3 separate regions of the Homo sapiens genome follow, and regions 1 and 2 are each linked to region 3. Evidence: fine-mapped expression QTL. A gene starts in region 3. Each other region holds a variant in brackets. All regions are shown on one strand. Distances are from middle to middle.

Region 1 (6,587 bases), 210 kb before region 3:
CTATCAGGTGAGCAGGGAGATAATTTCATTCCAATTAAAAATGCATTTATTTCTTAAATCATTTTTATTACAGAAGTAAAATAGTAATGTATTTTCTGCCTTAAAGATTAAGGCTATGTAAAAGTATATAGAGTAAAAACCCTTTTACTTACATTTATATGCATTGCTATACAGATATAATTTTTAAATAAATACTATTATACACTATACATTTTCAGAAACTTCGTTTTTTAACTTAAAATGTCTTAGAGGTTTTTTCAGGCCATAAATTTTTTTAAAGCTCCAAAGTGTGCCATTGTTTGTATGTAGCACAGTATATTTAATCTTTCTTATAGACATTTTGACTATTTACATTTTTTTGTTATTACAATGATACAGTGTATAAATATCTTTGTTGATGTAAGCAAATATTTTGTAAGGTAGATTGCTAGAAGTACCTTCACTGGGCACATTTAAATTTTGGCTGATACTGGCAAAAAGATTCTTGAAAACATTGAACATATCTATAGCTATACACACACAAGATCTATAAAATACTATCTATTTCTTTATTGTTTCTAGGATTTGAATTTTATTTAGGAAGAGTATTAATATTCTAAAATTCTAAAATATGCTTCCAATGTTTTTGTAGTTTTTCTTAACATTGAGCTCTGTAATCCTTCTAGTTTCATTTTAGGAATGACGTGAATTAGGCATTTAACTTTTCTCCCAAAGGAATAGCCCATTGCCCCACACTATCTATTAAAACACCCAAACTGTTGCCTTTATATTGGAGGAACAATCTGGCTTGGGTTTCACATTCTTTCCCTCAGAAGTGAACATGTGCTGCCTTTCCATCTTCTGAAATTGAATGTCACTGTGGTCAAGTCGAAAGCCAACCTGATTATTTCTGCTCTTGTAAGTGACTTGAATTTTCTGCCTATGTGCTCCCATAATCCTTTCTTTAAGCTTGAAATTCAGTAACTTTTTCAGATTATCTTATGCTGTCGATGATTCCAAATGAAACTTTCCTGAAATCTAGTGGGTCCTTTATGTCTATCTATTTATTACATTGTTTCGGGAGAATATTGTTTTACACCATGTTCTTATGATATTTTTCCAAGTGTTTTCTTCTTCAAAACCATCCAACTATCTGTCATTCATTTCTGTCATATTCTCTGGAGTCATTATATCTTTGTTCTTTTCTACTTTGTTTTGTGTTATTTCCCCAAATGCGTCTTCTATGTATTTAACAATATTTTCAGTGAAGTTCATTGTATTTTTGTGGCTTCTAGTGTCTTTTGTCTCTTTAGTGATTTTATTGATCTCTCCAACTTTTTCCCTGAGTATTGCCAGCACACTTTTAATCTCCCTTAATTATTTTATATCTCTTCTATAAAATTTTGAACTTTGCTCTGAACATTTTTGTTTGCTTGATACTTAGGAGCATTTGCTTGATGTTTATTGCTTCACACACACACACATATAGAGACAGAGAGATCCATATTTTCTGCAAGTCCTTCAGAATAATGGAGAACTCTTTGTCTACAATTTTTCTGAAATACTTTGATGTATTTGTTTGGGGATTGTGGGCTCTTCTTTGGCTTAAATTCCCTCCATTATTTATAAAAAATTACTTTGCAGTTTTAATGAATATATATTACTCCCTCCTTTTTGATTATAACTCATCTTTTTAAAAGCCTGACTATTATTTAAATAATTAAATAATAGTACAGGGAAAGGGGTGAAATAGGGTAGAGTAAGCTGAGGCTCACTGCTGTTTTAATTTGGGTTTTGTCCTGGTTATCTAGTGTTGCAGAGCAAACCACCCCACAACTGAGTGACTTAAAATAACAATCAGTTATTTTGTTCACATTTCTGCAAATTGGGCAGGGTGCAGTAGGTCCAGCTCATTTCTGCTCCACGTGGTATCAGCTGGGGCAGCTTGAATGGGGTTGCAGGATCCACTTCAAAGATGGATCGCCCACATGTCTGGCAAGTCTTGCTGGCTGTCGCTCCCTCTCCAGGTGGAACTCTCCACAGACTGATTTGGCTTCCTCACAGCAAGGTGGCTGGGTTCCAAGAGTAAGTTCTCTAAGCGAGAGGAGGTGGAAGCTGCTAGTTACTAAAGGCCTGGACCTGGAAACTGGGACAGCATCCCTTCTGTATTCTTTACACTGAAGGTGGGGCATAGACCCATTTCTGGATAGGAGTGTCAATGAATTTGGGGGCTATGTTTTAAAACTGCCACTGGCTGTCTCAAGCATCTGTCACCAAATCTGTTATTTCTTTGCTATTGGGAATACATCTTTTTGTAGTTTATGGCATTCAAATTGAGGTGGCACAGAGAAAAACCCCCGAAGTTGCGGATGAATTATGTTTTAATTTGAAAACTTCTCCTTTTCTTCCATACAAATAGCCTCCAGCAGAGTCCTTGGCTAGGAAACCAGAATGTGTCAGCATGATTTCTATTTGGCTGCTGTTTTGAGGGGTCAGACTATTTTCCCCATTTTCCCCTGACCCATCTACCTGATCTTAACTGTGCTCTAAACAGCAGAATATTGGATGCTCCTTTCAGTAGTATGATGTGCTATCAGGTCCGAGAGAAACAGACTTGGCTCAGCATCTTACCATCTCTTGTTTAAGATTTCACATTATTCAGCGGCAATACTTCATACTTAAATATTTCATAGTTTATAGTTTGGAGTTGTGAATACTTTCCTGTTTCAACGGCTATTTTTTTTCTATTTTTCAGTGTTTTTCTTAGTTTTAGTTTGTTTTCAGGGAGTCTAGTAGAATAAAACTATTTTATCCTGCTGTCTTAAGCAGAAGCTCCACATGATCTGTAGAATAGGCTTAAAAATATATGTTGTG[G/A]TTTTAGAAGTGAGTTTACATTGAAGATATAGTTTACTTGTGGGAGAATTGGCTTTTGAATCTTGTCATCCTGTCTCATAGCAGCTCTCCTTATTGTTTGTGGTGTCTTTTTGGTCCTTTACTAAAGTTAAAATTTTTCTTCTCAGATATCTTGTACATTTATTATTTAATGTTATTCTAATTATGTTAGATTTTTAAGATGCTATTATGAATAAAACTGTTTTCCATTACATGTTATCATTAATTGTTGCTGAAGTCCTGGAAAGCTACTGACTTTTGTCTGTCAATCATCTGTCTAGCCAGATTTCCGATTTCTCTAATATTTTGCCATTTAAGTCTCTTGTATTTTCTAAGTAGACAATCATATCCGCTCATCTATTAAGTATTTTATTTTGATTTTCCCAGTTTTAAATTTTTTAATATTTTTATAGATTTAGGGGGTACAGGGGCAGATTTATTACATGTGTATATTGCATAGCTGTGAAGCCTGGGCTTTTAGTGTATCCATCACCCAAATGGTGAACATTGTACCTAATAGGTAATTTTTCAGCCTCATTACCTTCCACCCTTCCACCTTTTGGAGTCTCTAATGTTTATTACTCCACTCTTTATGTCCACGTGTACCCATTATTTAGCTCCCATTTATAAGTGAGAATAAACAGAAGTGCAAAGCACTGGGGAATGAGATAATCTCCTGAGACTTCTACTTCCCCATCTCTGCAGGAGACAGTGAGCCTGACAACATGCAGAGTACACCACTACTAAAACCTACAAACAAGCAGCATTTGAGCAAGCCACTACACTAAGGCTATCTATAACCAAGGAATTCATACGGAGCCTTAGCCCCCACCCCAAGATCACAAATTAGCAAAGCCAAATGACCCTACCCAACATATGCAACAGTCACACTTTCAAGGGGAAAAATAAAGTCCCATTAAAATGAATGTAAATTCAAAAATAAGAAGTGACAGTTTCTCCAGATGAGAAGGAACCAACCAATTCTGTCACCATGAAAAAACAGTGTTGTAACACCCCTCAAGGATCACACTAGCTCTCTAGTGATGGATCTTATCCAAAATGAAAATTCTAAAATGACAGATAAAGAATTCAAAATATGGATCATAAGGGAGTTCAACGAGATCCAAGGGGAAGTTGAAAACCAATACAAAGAAATCTGAAAAACAATTCAAGATATGAATGAAAAATTTACTACAGAGATAGATATTTAAAGAAAGCACAAAACTCTGGAAATGAAAAATTTACAGATGGAATTACAAAATACAGTTGAAAGCTTTAACAATAGATTAGACAAAGCAGAAAAATTTCAAAGCTTGACTACATATCTTTTAAATTAACCCATTCAGACAAAAATAAAGCAAAAAGAATGTAAAAACTGAACAAAGGCTTTGATAAATATGGATTTTCCTATTTTGAATTTCTATGATTTATATTTCAAATTTCAGCTTATCCCTGTTTTGTAGATATAATAGCCATTTATATACACCTTAGTAAGTATATATGCTTTGGGCTTTAGTTTTCTATAATGTTGTTTCCCCTTAAAGTTGATCTTATTTGCTTTTATAATCTATAGCTTTAGCGTAACTGACATCTAAAATCTCAACAGGTTTTTATTTTTTAAAGGTGAGAATAGATATGTATACTAAAGTTGCCATCTTGATGAAATGAGAAAACCAACTTAAAGAGGTTGACTGACTTGCTCATTGGTATAAAACTAGTAAATAATAAAGTCAGAATCCAGACTGCCAACCCAACCTTTACTTCTCCATGGAGAAGTAAAACACATACTTTCCACATCTGAGGTTATGTTCTAAGATTAAAGTTTTTCCATGAAAACTTGTATTAGAATTACTAATGAAAAGAAAGCCAACTGCATACATGCATATATTTTTCTACTTTTCCTAACTTTTTCTTATAAGTTATGCTAATGAAAAGGCTAAAAGTGAACAGCTATAAGAACAATAAACAATATCTGAAAATTTAAATAGTCAACTGTTACATAAGTAAGAATTAACTCTGCCAAGAAGTTTTTCTGAGTTCCATAAAAAGCAAAGTAGGCGGGTGAGAATGGGAATGGGGGGTAAAAATGAAAAAGGATAAACCTCAAAACACATTAGGGTAAGAATTTAATTTAATGGCCCAAAATATAGCATGCTCACCTTAATGTCATTAGATCAAATTTGACCATTTAACTGCCATTCTGAAAATAAGCCATTTGGCACAGACTTTAGAATTTGACTTTCATATATCCAATTTGAATTAATTGCCTTTAGAAAAAACAGATGAAACTACATCATGATTCTGATATTGCAGGATAATGCCAGGAAGAGGGGAGTCTAAATTCTATGTGAGTTATTTCATCTAATAATTTAGTGGGCATTCACTCTAACTTTTGAAATGAGAAACTCTTGCTGTGAATCCATGAAGAACTTCTAAATGGTGAAAGAATTTCCTCCTTTTTCCTTCAATACTGCCTGCCATTCTGGCAACGGGAAAAGTGATATATTTGAGGACCCCTGGGGCAGGAAAATTGATAAGAGCTCCTGACTTCTTTCCCATAAACAACCAATATTTTAAAGCTATTAACAAGGGAGCTAGGCATTCAAAGACAGTTCATTTATCTTCCAATAGCTGGCAAGGGTGTCAGGCCCTGCAGTCAGGCACAGAAAAATGGGCCCTGAATTCACCCTCTATTGCTGAACAGCTGCTCTTTCCCAAGGTTTTAATCAGATTCCCTAAGCATCCCATGCCCCAGTAAGGCAGAGCCCACATAAAACTGGCAATAAGCCTGTCTTGTAAATTCATTACAAAGCTCAAGTAATATGAGCAGATTATATTCTCCAGGCCAAGAGAGAGCTTTTAATTTAGACCAAAATTATTATTGCATATTGATTTGGCCCCTTGTTCTCTGGAAAGTTTTTTCTTAGAAAAAATCCAGACTTGGTCACCTGAAATAAAAGACATTTTCTTGGTTGTTCAGAATGAGAAGTCAGGTTTAAGTGTATTAGAAAGAAAATATGTCTTTGGATGAAAAATTCTTAATTCAGAGCCCCAAAACTATTTATAGAGTTTTGTCTTTTTGTTTAGCTGCACCTACCCTCCACCCCCTGAAGTGAGAGCCATAGCTTCCTTTAACTCTTGACTTCTGACCCAAAAGCTTAGTATGCAGTATTTTAGATTATGTTATTAGAAGCGAGTGTGGCAACCTTTGGAAATCTTTCCTTGCATGAGGCAGAAGTCAAGATTGGTTCTTCTCATAGACAGCCTGATGCCTAGCTATCAACTACTATCTGTTAGTAGGCACTAGCATGGGCATTCATGCCTCTGGTTACAACAGAGGGAATGAGAGGGAATCACTATCAACCCCTGACCAGATATTAAAGGACATTAGAGACAAATGACACTGATGCATCATGACAAAAGTATACTGTATCAATTAGAAAAAGGATTGGGTAGTCATAAAAGAATCACAGAATCAAACACTGCTAGTCTTCTTCCCAGCTTTGTGTAGTACTGAGAGGGCCAAATTTTATCATCTTACTAAAAGTGAGCAGTTTTTAATTATCCTGAATGTTGGTATGGATTTAGGAGGTCATTACCAAGCACTTCAAAATTTCAAAGACCCATTGGATAAACAACAGCTTTTGTGTGAAGGATGAGGATAAACATTTGACAACCTTCATCTGTCCCTGTGTTTACCATACAACCCTCTGATA
Region 2 (6,587 bases), 22 kb before region 3:
GCTGTCTGTGGAGCCTACCTCAGGCTGTATCTGTTACTAAACAGGAGCTTCCTAATGACCTCAGGAGAGAACAGGGAAATGCAGCTGGGTGGAACTTTAAATAACTACTCGCTGGAGACCAGCAATGATAAATGTGCACTCTTGCCACAGTTTAATATTTTAGAAGGAACAAAGCAATGGGGAAAAGAATTGAAAGATCCATTGTAAATATTATTTACTCAGACTTAAAGTACAATGGGAAATCTCTTTTTTCCCTTCCACTCTCTCTCTGTTTTCTGTTCTTTGCTCAGGCTCCTTTTCTCTCCCTCTCTCCCTGCCTTGAATCTCTCTCTGCCTCCTTCCATCCCTACGCAATTATTTGGAGAGCAGACTTTTTAGCAGTTCAGTCCTCTGAGTAGTAAACAACCATCACAGAGCACACATAATTCACCCTGAGGAGAAATCTGAGGTTAGATGCTTGGTTACAAAATAGCCAGCAATTAAGACAGGACAGAGTAGCAGTAAAAAGGAGCTACTGACAAGCAGAGAATGATAGATACCTGGTTACATCATCCATTCATTTATCAAGATCCACAGAGAATTCACCATTTGCCAGGAATCATGGAATGAATGTGACCACTAAACAGACCTAGTCTCTGCCCTCCTGGAGCCCACAGTCTAGTGAGACTGTAGACAAGTGACATTGAGAAGACAGACATGAATCAAAACATTATAGAAGTAAATATTAACTTACAACTCAGCTAAAATGCAGTGGGGGAATGTCAGGTGGAGCTATGAGACTGCAGACCTATGAGACAAAAGACCTGGATACTGTAGTAGAGTAGCATGGGGACATTCGGGGTGAAGATGAGTGTTCTCCCAGAGGTAATCAGCCCCTAAGAACATCCTCATGTCAGGCCAACAGCCCATGCACATACTGGTGCCGCAAGACTCAGAATACAGAATTTAAGATTTCAGAAAAGACACAAAGGATAAATGCTTGAGGGGATGGCTTTCCCATTCTCCATTATGTGATTATTTCACATTGCATGCCTGTATCAAAACATTTTATGTAACCCATAAATATATATACCTACTATGTACCCACAAAAATAAAAAATAAAAAAATTAAAAAATAAATTAAAAATTAAACATTAAAAAAGATTTCAGAAAAGAGTGGAATTTTTAAAGGTAGATGTTATCAAAAATATTTAATAGTTACAATAAAAATAAAATTTTAATAAAATATAAGATATTATATTGTTCTCTAAGATGAGGTGTCCATATCTTAGAGAATGGAAAGGATGATTTTGGTGTGCAAAGGACATACTGGAACTTCTGTTTATATTTCATTTTATCTCATCCTTTTAAAAAATTCTAGTTTGATATCTGCTTTATAATGTATAGAGTATATTGATACAGTAGTCCTTACATCCAACTTGTAAATAAAAAGGTATATGGATATATTCTCAAACGCATTTCACTGGTGGGTGCATAATCAAAAGTTTGGAAGTTAGTATTTGCGTGGTGCATTCTGAAGGCAAGCTTTCAAAAGTGGCCATGGTACCTCATGGCACTTCCTGCCCCTAGGAGCAGAGTGTCCCTGTGTTTCTAGATTTCCAATCCCTATTCCAAGATGATCTCTCTCTTCTTCTCTGCCCTTCTCTACTTTAAAAAATATTTTTTTCTAAAACTTTTTATATATACAAAATGATCTTAGAATATTCATGAATAAAATGGCAAAGAGCTGGCAGGAAAAAAAAACCAAAAAACCAAAAACAAAAAACTGCCTTCCAGAAAGCAGCAGGCACTTACTGTTACTTAGTTTTGTCCTCTGCTTTGAAATTCCCTTCTTCCAGATTTCTGCATGGCATAGTCCCCACTTCATTAGGACTCAGCTCCGATTCACCTCAGTGAGGCCTTCTCTGCAGGACATATCTAAAGACCCTTCACTCCGAACCTTCTAATTTTGCTAACTTCTCTTCATAGCACTTGCCTCCACTTGGCTCTGGATTACAAATGCTTGTGCTGAACTTCCTTTGTCTATCCCCCTCCAGGAAGTTAAACCCCATGAGCACAAGGACTTCGTTTTGTTCACTACCATACTTGCAGCACCTAAAACCAATGCCTGGCAAGTGGCAAGTGCTCAATAAATAAATATTTTTTGAATGACTGAAGGAATGAAGAAAATCTGTGTTGTTCAATGATGAAATCAAAACCAAATGGAATATTTAGAGTCTTTAAATACATTTCTGAGGTCATCTCACAGGCCAACTTTTTGCCAAAAATGTTGAATGAAAGTGGAAGAAAACAGCTAAAGCAAACAAATTTTTAGTTTCTTTAGTAACAGCAGATCTCTTAAATAAGGTTTAGGATGAAAGGAGCTGCATCCGCCCAAACAGCCTCATCCCATTTACTGCCAAACTTGACATTCTCTGGAACCATCTCACGTGGTAGGAGCCAAGAATTGTCATGATAGAGAAACACAAATCATGGAGCCCTATTCTCTGTTGAAAGGAAGAATAATTGATAGTATCCTACAAATGCTTCTCCACACCCCCAATGCTGATTTATCATCATGAAGCTTGCTTTCTCTCAGTGTGCCTAGAAAAGTTTCTTAAAAAATTTCTTTTCAGTCCTTTGTTTATCCTCCCCAAGAGTGTCCTAGTGTTAACTGTACATATTTATCTCATGGCCCAATGACTCTCTCTGCTCAAGCGATTCCTGTTACAGGAAGAGGTTTGCCCCTGGCCTTATTGAAGCTCAAGTAAAGGAAAAGACTAGAAATGCAAATGTAGTTTACAAATAAATATATGAGAATTAAAACTCTGAATGATGAAAAATCAAAATCACCATTAGGAAAAGTTGGATGGTGAGAAAAAAAAAAGGACTTTGATTTATTTATTTAAAGCTACAAAAAATTAATTATTTAATTCTTCAAAAACAAAATTACTTTTAAAAGTCTTATGGTTAGTTGTTTCTATAAGGGCTTCCTTAAAGTAGCTCTAAAATATGTAGTATTATCAACACAATTGAAACGAGCTCTGATGACCTATTTGCAGCTTGGCAATTCTCTTTATTGAAAGAATAGAAAGGACAGATTGCTCAGCAGTGTAACTCACTTCAAAGTAACTTCCTTTACCAAGCGATAGTGTCTACTTGTCACACAGGAAGTGAAGACTTGGCAAAATTTTC[G/C]CTGGGTAGTTTCCTTTGACTTTTTGCATTACAGTCAACTTATCTATGAGTGATAGGAAGTGTAAATTTAACTGTACTGACAACTTTTTGATAATCTACTGTATCTGCAAGACTTTTCCAGCCAAATGGCCCACTGACCCTTCCAACTGAGTATTATAAACACCTAACATGCTAAATCAATGATGAATAAATTAATGATGAAATAGATTGATTCATTCATTCATCAGTTTAAAACCACATTTGTGACCAGGCACTGTGGCTCACACCTATAATCCCAGCATTTTGGGAGGCTGAGGCAGGCAGATCACTGGAGGTCAGGAGTTTGAGACCAGCCTGGACAACATGGTGAAACTCCATCTCTACTAAGAATACGAAAAGTAGCTGGGCGTGGTGGCACATACCTGTAGTCCCAGCTACTTGGGAGGCTAGGGCATGAGAATTGCTTGAACCTAGGAGGCAGAGGTTGCAGTGAGCTGGAATCGTACCACTGTACTGCAGCCTGGGCGACAGAGCAAGACTCTGTCTTGAAAAAAAAAAAAAACCACCATATTTGTGATTTGTGATTTTCTCCTACAAATCAACTCCTTCTTCTAACTTTTAACTTCCACATTTTTGCCTCACCACCCTTCTGTGAACCCACATGACCAGGGTAGCAGAGGAAGCTGTTTTTCCTCTTCTTCTGACTAGTTGGGCCAAGCCCTTCACAGCCTTCCTTCCTCGTTTTTCTTGCATCTACCTCTTGGTTACCATCCAAGTCTAGGCTTCATCTGTCTCTTTGCTTTCACTCTCTACCCTGTACACAGCAGGCACACTATCCTTTTGCTTTTGTCAACATTACACTGTTCCTCTGACTACAAATAGAGAGGGCATTACTCAGCCTGGCATTCAGGGGCTTCCAAATCAAGGTCTGCCTTCATTTTCAGCTCTAGGTTTCACTGGTCTTCCACACTTCAACAAATTGGAAATGCTTTTTCTTTCCTGGAATATTGTCTACCCCTTTTCCCACATCCATATCATGCTTTTCCTTCTGCATGGAATTCCTCCCCTCTGTCCCCCCAACACCACACATACCCCTATCATCAGAGTCAATCAACTGCCCTTCTTAGAAATCTTTCCTATTACCCTTAATAAGAGACCATACTGTCCTGTTCTGGACGCCTGTGGTTCTTGTCCCACTTTTTTGATACGTGCCTTTAGTGTTACTCATTCATTTATTCATATGCTATGTTTTTCTCTGATTTACTACTAAACTCCTTGGGACCACATCTTGTTTCAGAATTGAAATTGATAGGACTCAGTTCATTTGTGTTGAAAGAATAAATGAATGAAAGTATGAAACAGAAAGTTATTTTATCATCTTCTCTTCAAAACAGGTTTTGAACTTCCTATTGACATAAAATGCAGAAATATTTGGTAGACATTTTGGTATTCCTAAATATTACATAACAAACTTATGTTTGCAAAGCTATCATGTAATAGGATGTAGGCCCTAAAGGGTTACAACCAGTTGCAGGTATCTTGTATACACAGAACAATTTGACAAATGGTGGTGGAAACATTGGCTGAACAGATACAGAGCAACATGGTCTTGTTTTATCCTCTTAGAAGGTTGTTTTGAGTTCATCGTCTGCTCATAACATATAGAAGAATACTGTTTTCACCAATCTTTAAGTGAAAATATTTTTTTTCTTTTCTACACTTTTATCTGTGTTGAGCATGAACAAAACAAGTTTGGCATATGGTGTTTCCTGAAATTTTTATATGTTTAAACATGGCATAAAATCACAGTACATTGCTGTTTATATAAATGCCAACAGCTCTCATATTTTCCAGTTTTATACCTTCTTATTGGAAGGAACTCACAGAGCCATCAAACCAGTTCTGTCTCTAAGCACGTCAATGCCTAACCATCCCAGAAATACACGTGCTCTTATAAAATCTTCTAAGAGGCCATTACATAGCACAAGAATTCATTCCAGCCTCTCCAAATCCTGAAGTCAGAAATTTCATCCAAGACACTAAACTATATTTTTCTAAGAGTAAAACCCATTTTCAAATCATGTAACTTTTAGAAACAAAGGCAAAATACTCCCTTTAAAATATATCACAAAGGAAAAGGACCCAGTGGGGCCACACTAATGGCTTCTGTGACTCTGCTGAGCCGGACTTCTTCCTCAACTCTGACCTCCCTGCACTCTTTCTAGCACTGGTCATCTCCTTCTGCCTGTCTAACTGTGAAACGCTCTAGGTCTTAGCCCCAGGTGCCCTGCCCTTCTCTGTCCATGTGGCCTCTCAGAGAGCCTGTCCAGTAGTGTGGGGTATAATAATTTACTCAGGTCTCAGAATTAAGTGCTATAGTCCAAGTTCTATCTCTTCTCTAACCAGTAGTGGGACCCTGAACTCACCATGTATTTTCTCTGGACATTAATGTATTATCCATATATGCACAGCTAAGATTAAAGAATGTCTCAGGTGTCTACAAACATTAAGCATCCAGGACACTACAATTCTACCAACTCCAAGAATGATAATTTCTAAATACTGTATGTTTCTCTAGCCATATGTGCTCTGCCAAGATCTCAGACTCATCAATTATTTATTCATTCATTCATTGTTTAGCAGCTATTAGGCATGGGGCACCAGGATAGGCTTTGGGGATACATTGGTCAGTAAAAAAGGTATGGTCCCTGCCTTTGTGAAGTTTACAGTCTAATGGACAATAAGCAATGTAAGAATGCTAATAAACAAAAAGCAAGCAAATACATGTATAATTTCAGATGATGTCAAGTACTATGAAATAAGAGAGAAAGAAACAAGCACATACCTACCCCAACACACACACACACACACAGAGAGAGAGAGAGAGAAGAGAAGGGAGGGAGGATACAGTGTGAGAAAATGGGTAAGCCCTCTCTGAAAAGATGGTACTTCAAGCCAAAACTCTAGTAATGTGAAGGAGGCTGATATTCAAAGGGTAGACGTGAGGCCATTTTAGGTGAAAGGAATGACAGGTACAGAGGTCCTGAAGAAAAAAGTTCTTGTTGTGTTGAGTGAACAAAATAAGGGGCTGGTAGATCTGCAGCAGTGGATGTGAAGTAAAGAAGAACAAACGCAGCATCTCTCTCCTCACCATTTCACCTGAACTCGAAGTAGGACTAAAATCCCTAACTCATTTGCCCATTAGCGTCACCTTGGTGATCTTCTAAAAATTCCAAAACCCTTGATACTCCCTAAATCAGTCAAATCACAAACCCAGAGGCAGAACACAGTCACACAGTCATCAGTATGTTTTGAAGCTTCCCAATGATTCCAAAGTGCAGAGAGTTTGGGAACCACTGACTTAAATTGATTTTAGTGCTTAATTTCTTGTTTTGCCCATCTATGAAATGATGAGGTTCAATTTAATGAGGTCG
Region 3 (5,781 bases):
ATTCCAAGTTCATTTATAGCTGTTGGACAATTAATTCACTTGGCATCTCCTTTCCCCTATCATTAAAAAGTGTTTACTACAGTATCCCATCATGTTCCTCTGGTGTAGTTTCAGACTATTTTATTACATTACTGATAGAAAGTTCCTAATAAGCATTTAAGATATAACATTTAGGACATCCCTGAAGAAGAAATGTGACAAGTCATGAATGCCACCCATATGGAGTACTTTCAGAAAACACAGGGAGAGTTCTTTCAGGTGAACGTGAACCTTAGTAAGACATGCAGATGAGTGAAAGCACATGGACCAGTCATGAGTGGCTATTCAGTTTTGGAAAGTCCCTTCACTTCTCTGGGATTCAGCTTCTGCCTCTCTAAAATAAAGGGGATAGAGAAGATAACCTCTAAAATTCTTTGACATCCTAACAATTATGATTCTATGCCAAGAAAAAGTTAAACATCACTAAAATATGTCTTTTCATTGATCTATATAGTTCAAGATAACTGAAAGATACTCAAAATTTCTAGTAAGAGAATACATATATATGCATATCTCCATAATTTTTATAATCCTTTTACATTGCACTGGTTCAGAATTTGCTTTCAATAACTTTTACTTTAAAAAACTCATGAAAGAAGAATAGGAATCAGAGAACCCAACTTAATTCCACTCATAAACTTTAAGCCTTTATCTGCCTTAAGAACAGCAATTTAGAGAAATGCTACCTCAATAGCAGTGGTCAATGAACTACTATTTTATTATTTCAAGCACAATTTAAAAATATTTCAGAGAGTTTTGCAGGATTAAAGGTAACCTGGAATTTTTCAGATTCAAAAGTAAGAGTTACTGTATGTATTGTGAATGCAAAACATGACTGAATTTTAGTAGGTTATCAAAACTTTTACGAAAACAATATCCCCACCATTGAACTTGGTAAATGAGTCATAGTTCAATCAAATTCAGGGATGTGAAGAAATCTTTCCCTCTAATAAAGGTTGGCAATCTATTAAATCTGGGTAGTTTTGCTAAAGCACATATGTCCCTTTAATATGATATCAAGAATTACATTGTTTCTGGCTTCTCAGATTCTATTCCATATCCTTGCAGATTACTTATTAGTCAAGTCAAGAGAAAAATTCTGTTCATGATGGAGATAGGCAAATGACAGGAACCTAGGGCTTCACATCTGATGGCATCCCCTCCTTTTTGTTTGGCTATTTCTCTCCCACCTGATTGTGATTTTTTTTTTCTCTTAAATGAGAGTTTTCTTGTGCCCGTTAAGACCCTCAATACTGGCTGGGAATGGTGGCTCATGCCCGTAATGCCAGCATTTTGGGAGGCCAAGGTCAGTGGATCTCTTTAGGCCAGGAGTTGGAGACCAGCCTGGGCAACATAGTGAGACCCTGTCTCCACTAAATTTTAAAAAATAAATAAAACAATACAGCAAAAAAAGGTTTTTTTTTTTTTTGCATTTGGGTTATGTTTTTTTTCTTTTTTTAATTATACTTTAAGTTTTAGGGTACATGTGCACAACGTGCAGGTTAGTTACATATGTATACATGTGCCATGTTGGTGTGCTGCACCCATTAACTCGTCATTTAACATCAGGTATATCTCCTAATGCTGTCCCTCCCCACTCCCAAGCAAAAAATTTTTAAAAGACCCTCAGTACCAAGGAATTTAACTCTGTGCTCTGAATGGATCAGCATATCAGCCTCCTGAGCCTGAAACTTCCGCCTTATAGCTCAAGTATCTCACAGTGGGATCCACTTAAGGCTTAGGATTCCTTAGGTTCTGAAATCACAACTATACACTGTTAATATCAGGACACCACAGGATTAGCATATACAATGTGCATTGATCTGTACCCTGAATCTCAGGCTTAGGAAAGGGTTTCAGGATTTCCAAAATGAGGAAACCCCAAATATAAAAGTATGTTATTTGCTATAAATTATAGCAATGCCTTGCCTGTTGCCATTGTGTTCAAACTTCCTATCCATTATCAGGCTGAGATAAGAGCAGTGAAGTAAACTATTTCATCAGTAACACCAGTAAAAACTGGTGTCTTTCATTTTACTTTAAAAGATGAGAGTACAGACAGATAATCTCTGTCAGACTTTATTAAACTTTCTGAAAGGAATGATACGGTAAGTTGCCCAGAAAGAGCAATACTGCAGGTGTTAAATATTTTTCCACACCTTGGCCTCCAATACATAAATAGGAGATACATAACAAATAACACTAGCAATGATCATTATAAATTAGAACATCTGAAATCAGGCTAAGAAGTAAAAAGTACTGCATAAAGAAACTCTCGTTTATTTATAACTTTTTATTATAAGAAAATAAGACACTGTTCGTATAAATAAAAAGGACTTGGACACAATATTCTCTTAAGAGGGGTGGGGTTAGTTTCTGCAAGTTTTCTTCTTGAAATTAGTTGATATAAGAGGAATTACTCCAGGCATTTTGAAGTGATGTTTTTTCTAGAACTTCGTAATGTTCATCGGTGCAGCCAGTGAGAGAAGGCTGCTCTTTGTGACTGCAGAGCCATCACTTCCCAACATCATTACAAAAACAAACAGCTCGCCCTCGACTCCCCACATGACAATGGACCCGCATCTGTCAACAGACTTGCATTATGTGCCGTGTGAGAACATGACTGTGACATTTGCTCTCGTGACATGGCAAATTTCGGCGGCTTGTCTGTAAAGAGATTAGCATTCGTTACGCTGCAGCACCTTTCATCAAACTAATGACATTTCAATCAGCACATTTTCTCCAGTTTCGGTACTTTGCTATCTGAGCACAAGTCTCTAATTACGCTCAAGCAACAAGTTTCACATCAATCTCACAATTTATGCACTCACCATACACCATTGCTCCTCCAGTTTCATGCAAGAAGCGGAATCGATGATTTTTAAATAACCAGATTGTCAAAATGGTAAGGATGAGCAAAAAATTGAAGACAAGCAGCTCCACCGCTCCCTGATGTTGAAACTGATACTCATCCTTTTCTGACATAACCCTTGACTGTCTCTCCATTCCCCAGTCTTCTTGGGATTCCTTAGATAAAAACCTGGATAAAGGCTATTTTATCAAGATTTGCCTAAGACAGTCTGACTGCCTGAGAATTTCAGAAGAAACACTGCCACTTTAGTTGCTACTTCACAAGCATTCTGCCCTGGCTTAGTATTCAGATGGCTTCTAGTTACAACTTCCTGTTTCTCTCTTAAAGCAGCCCTGTCTCTTTTCAAACTCGAGAGTGTGTGGTTTCATCACTGACTCTTAATGTCTTTAAGTGATTCATCTCATGAAAATATCTTTCATACTGGACAAATCTGCAAGCAATGATGCTAAGATCTTGAATCACGGTCTTATTATTCCAAATAAGTCTTCTTAAGCTGCATAAATATGAACTGTAGATTAATAATAAAAAAGGTAGCCTTACACTAGCAACGTTTTCTAAGTTCAAAAAGCCAATTCCTGACTCAACTTCACCTAAATGCAAGATCTTTCCTCTCTAACCAAGACCTGCCAAAGTGATGGGGATTGATAGCACAGTTATCAATCAGCCTCTGTGCTCTAAATGGATCAGCATATTAGCCTCCTGAAAAGATATTACACTGCTTAGCCTGAAACTTCCGCCTCATAGCTCAAGTATCTCACAATGGGATTCACTTAAGGCATAGGGTTTCTTATAGGGTTTCTTATGCTCTCAAATCATGACTGTACATTGGTTAAGCAAACCTAAAGTGATTTCACAGGATTTTTTTTTTTTTTTTTTAGTTGAGAAGCAAGAAAGGATTTAGTATATGACTCTATTTGGCTTTATATAATTGATAGTTGCAGAGCAGCCTTTAAACTCTAAATCAATTGTTTTTCTTTTAACAAGAGAAAACAATGAAAGCAAAAGACAAATAAAATTCCATCCCCATCTCTACAACTGTACTGTTTGGATACGTTGAGACAAAAAAGAAAAAAAACAAAACACATTACTTCGAAAGAGAAACTCACGCAGCCATCCTCAGCAACGCCACATGCATGGATTTCTCTTTGTAGGGTTCCTGGTCTCGGCATCCAGGACCCACAGAAATCTGCAATAGATCACAACCTCCTCTGTCCTATGGCAAAACAATGTTGCTCACTGAGAAATGGTTCTGCCACCAGAAATGAAAGCTCTGTATTCACAGGATTCTGATCATAAGAGTGATGATTCTTCAGATCATCTTCCATGTGGCAGGTTGCTCCTGTCTGATTTCATATTTTTCTACTTTAAAATAGTTCAAGATAATACCATGGGTTCTGCAGCTTTTTTTTCCTTTTCTTTCTTTTTTCTTAGCAAATATTATGACCTGCTTGCTTTTAACACTTGATCCTATAACACATTTGGGTATATCCTGGGGTTAGCTGATTTTTTTTTTCATTTTACCATATCATTGTAATTTGGGAGTATTAATCACTTATGATCCCCATTTTGACACAATTAATGCTCAATTTATACAATGTGATTTCTTATTGAGTAGGCTGAGCCCAAATGCGTCCTGAAACAATTTTTGTCACTAAAAGCTAAAGGTCAAGCATGTAATATTATTGGGAGCTAACTACCTCCTCAACAAACAGTTTCACCATGAGAGCAAGTCTATCAACCCCTTAATACAAAGCTCTGCTGTTTCAGCATCTTTGCTTTGTGCAACTTTGGAAGCTTATTTCCTCTCTGAGTTTAACTTAGCAGAGGGTATTTATGTGTGCTGCAGATGTTCTTCTGACACGCTACCCTTTTTGGCAGGAATATCTGTGATGACTAATATTCATACTGTTTTGAAACCTATCAGCTAATGCTTGCAAGCATTTCATGGAGCTTTGCTAGCAGGTTCTACCTTTATGATTTTGCAACTCCACAGGTTCAGTCGAGTTGTCAGATATACAAGATAACACAAATTCAGAAACTTCCTGTCCTTTTGTTTTTTGTCATTATTGAATTACTTTGGTTTTCTTTTATCACAATTATTCCATCTGAGTAGAATAAACATTCTCTGGTTGATCCGTGACATCCAGTTTCACTCTTTTAACCAATGAAGCAACTTGACAAAAGATTAATGGCCCATAGAATGTTTTGATTGGCTTACACGTCTTTTTAAAAAGTTTTAGGTTTGATGTCAACACATTCAAATCAGTATATTTAACATTTAAAAAATCATATGGCTTTTTGCAAGAAAAACTTGTAAGATCTGGCACACTGGGCCCTTCTTACATGGCCACAATCTGTTGGGGCTGAGTGGTTGCCTGCTGCATTTGCAACCAGCTTGCCACAAGTCCATTCATCCCTCTTCTTTCATTCATGGTCCCCGTGTGGCCCCTGCAGATGTTTGAATGTATGACCCCTGCTTTATTCCAGGAATGGAGTACATTCACTATTCCATTGTTCATTCCTGATGCTGCTTCACATTGGGGGGAAAAGCTTGAAGAAAAGGGGCTCAGGAAACATCTCCAATTCCTCCATCCAGAAAAGGAATTCAATTCTTCCTATTTTGTGTTTTCTTTTTAGAATATCATTTTTTATTTTGCTGTACCAACGTAAGTGAGAAAATAAAATGGAAACATGTAACAATAGAGAGTCTACTATGGACCAGAAAATATGCCAAGGAATTTAACTTAGTCTAATTTAATGTGCAGAAAATACTCACCCTTCTCCTGGTGAGTAATTTAAGGCTCAGGGAGATTTGGCAACATAGCCAAGGTCACACAGCCAGTAGGAGTTAAATTGCATGTGGGGTGTAT

What was found. PIP is the estimated chance that this variant, and not a neighbour inherited with it, causes the effect.
Region 1: its variant is fine-mapped to the expression of SLC9A9 in whole blood (INTERVAL, PIP 0.96).
Region 2: its variant is fine-mapped to the expression of SLC9A9 in whole blood (TOPMed, PIP above 0.99).

The regions. Positions count from the first base shown.
Region 1 is chr3:143,633,206-143,639,792 of GRCh38, forward strand. All of the region lies in intron 6 of SLC9A9 (solute carrier family 9 member A9), which reads right to left. LOC102724120 (a long non-coding RNA gene) reads left to right here and starts at 796. Exons shown (of 3, transcript XR_001740940.2): 1 at 796-897. The variant G/A (reference allele first, on the strand shown) is at 2,854.
Region 2 is chr3:143,822,559-143,829,145 of GRCh38, forward strand. The region is part of intron 2 of SLC9A9 (solute carrier family 9 member A9); the gene reads right to left. Among named protein-coding and RNA genes, the nearest start is that of SLC9A9, 23 kb to the right of the region's middle. The variant G/C (reference allele first, on the strand shown) is at 3,175.
Region 3 is chr3:143,845,278-143,851,058 of GRCh38, forward strand. It overlaps SLC9A9 (solute carrier family 9 member A9), which reads right to left and starts at 3,191. Exons shown (of 16, transcript NM_173653.4): 1 at 2,871-3,191. The coding sequence starts at 3,045.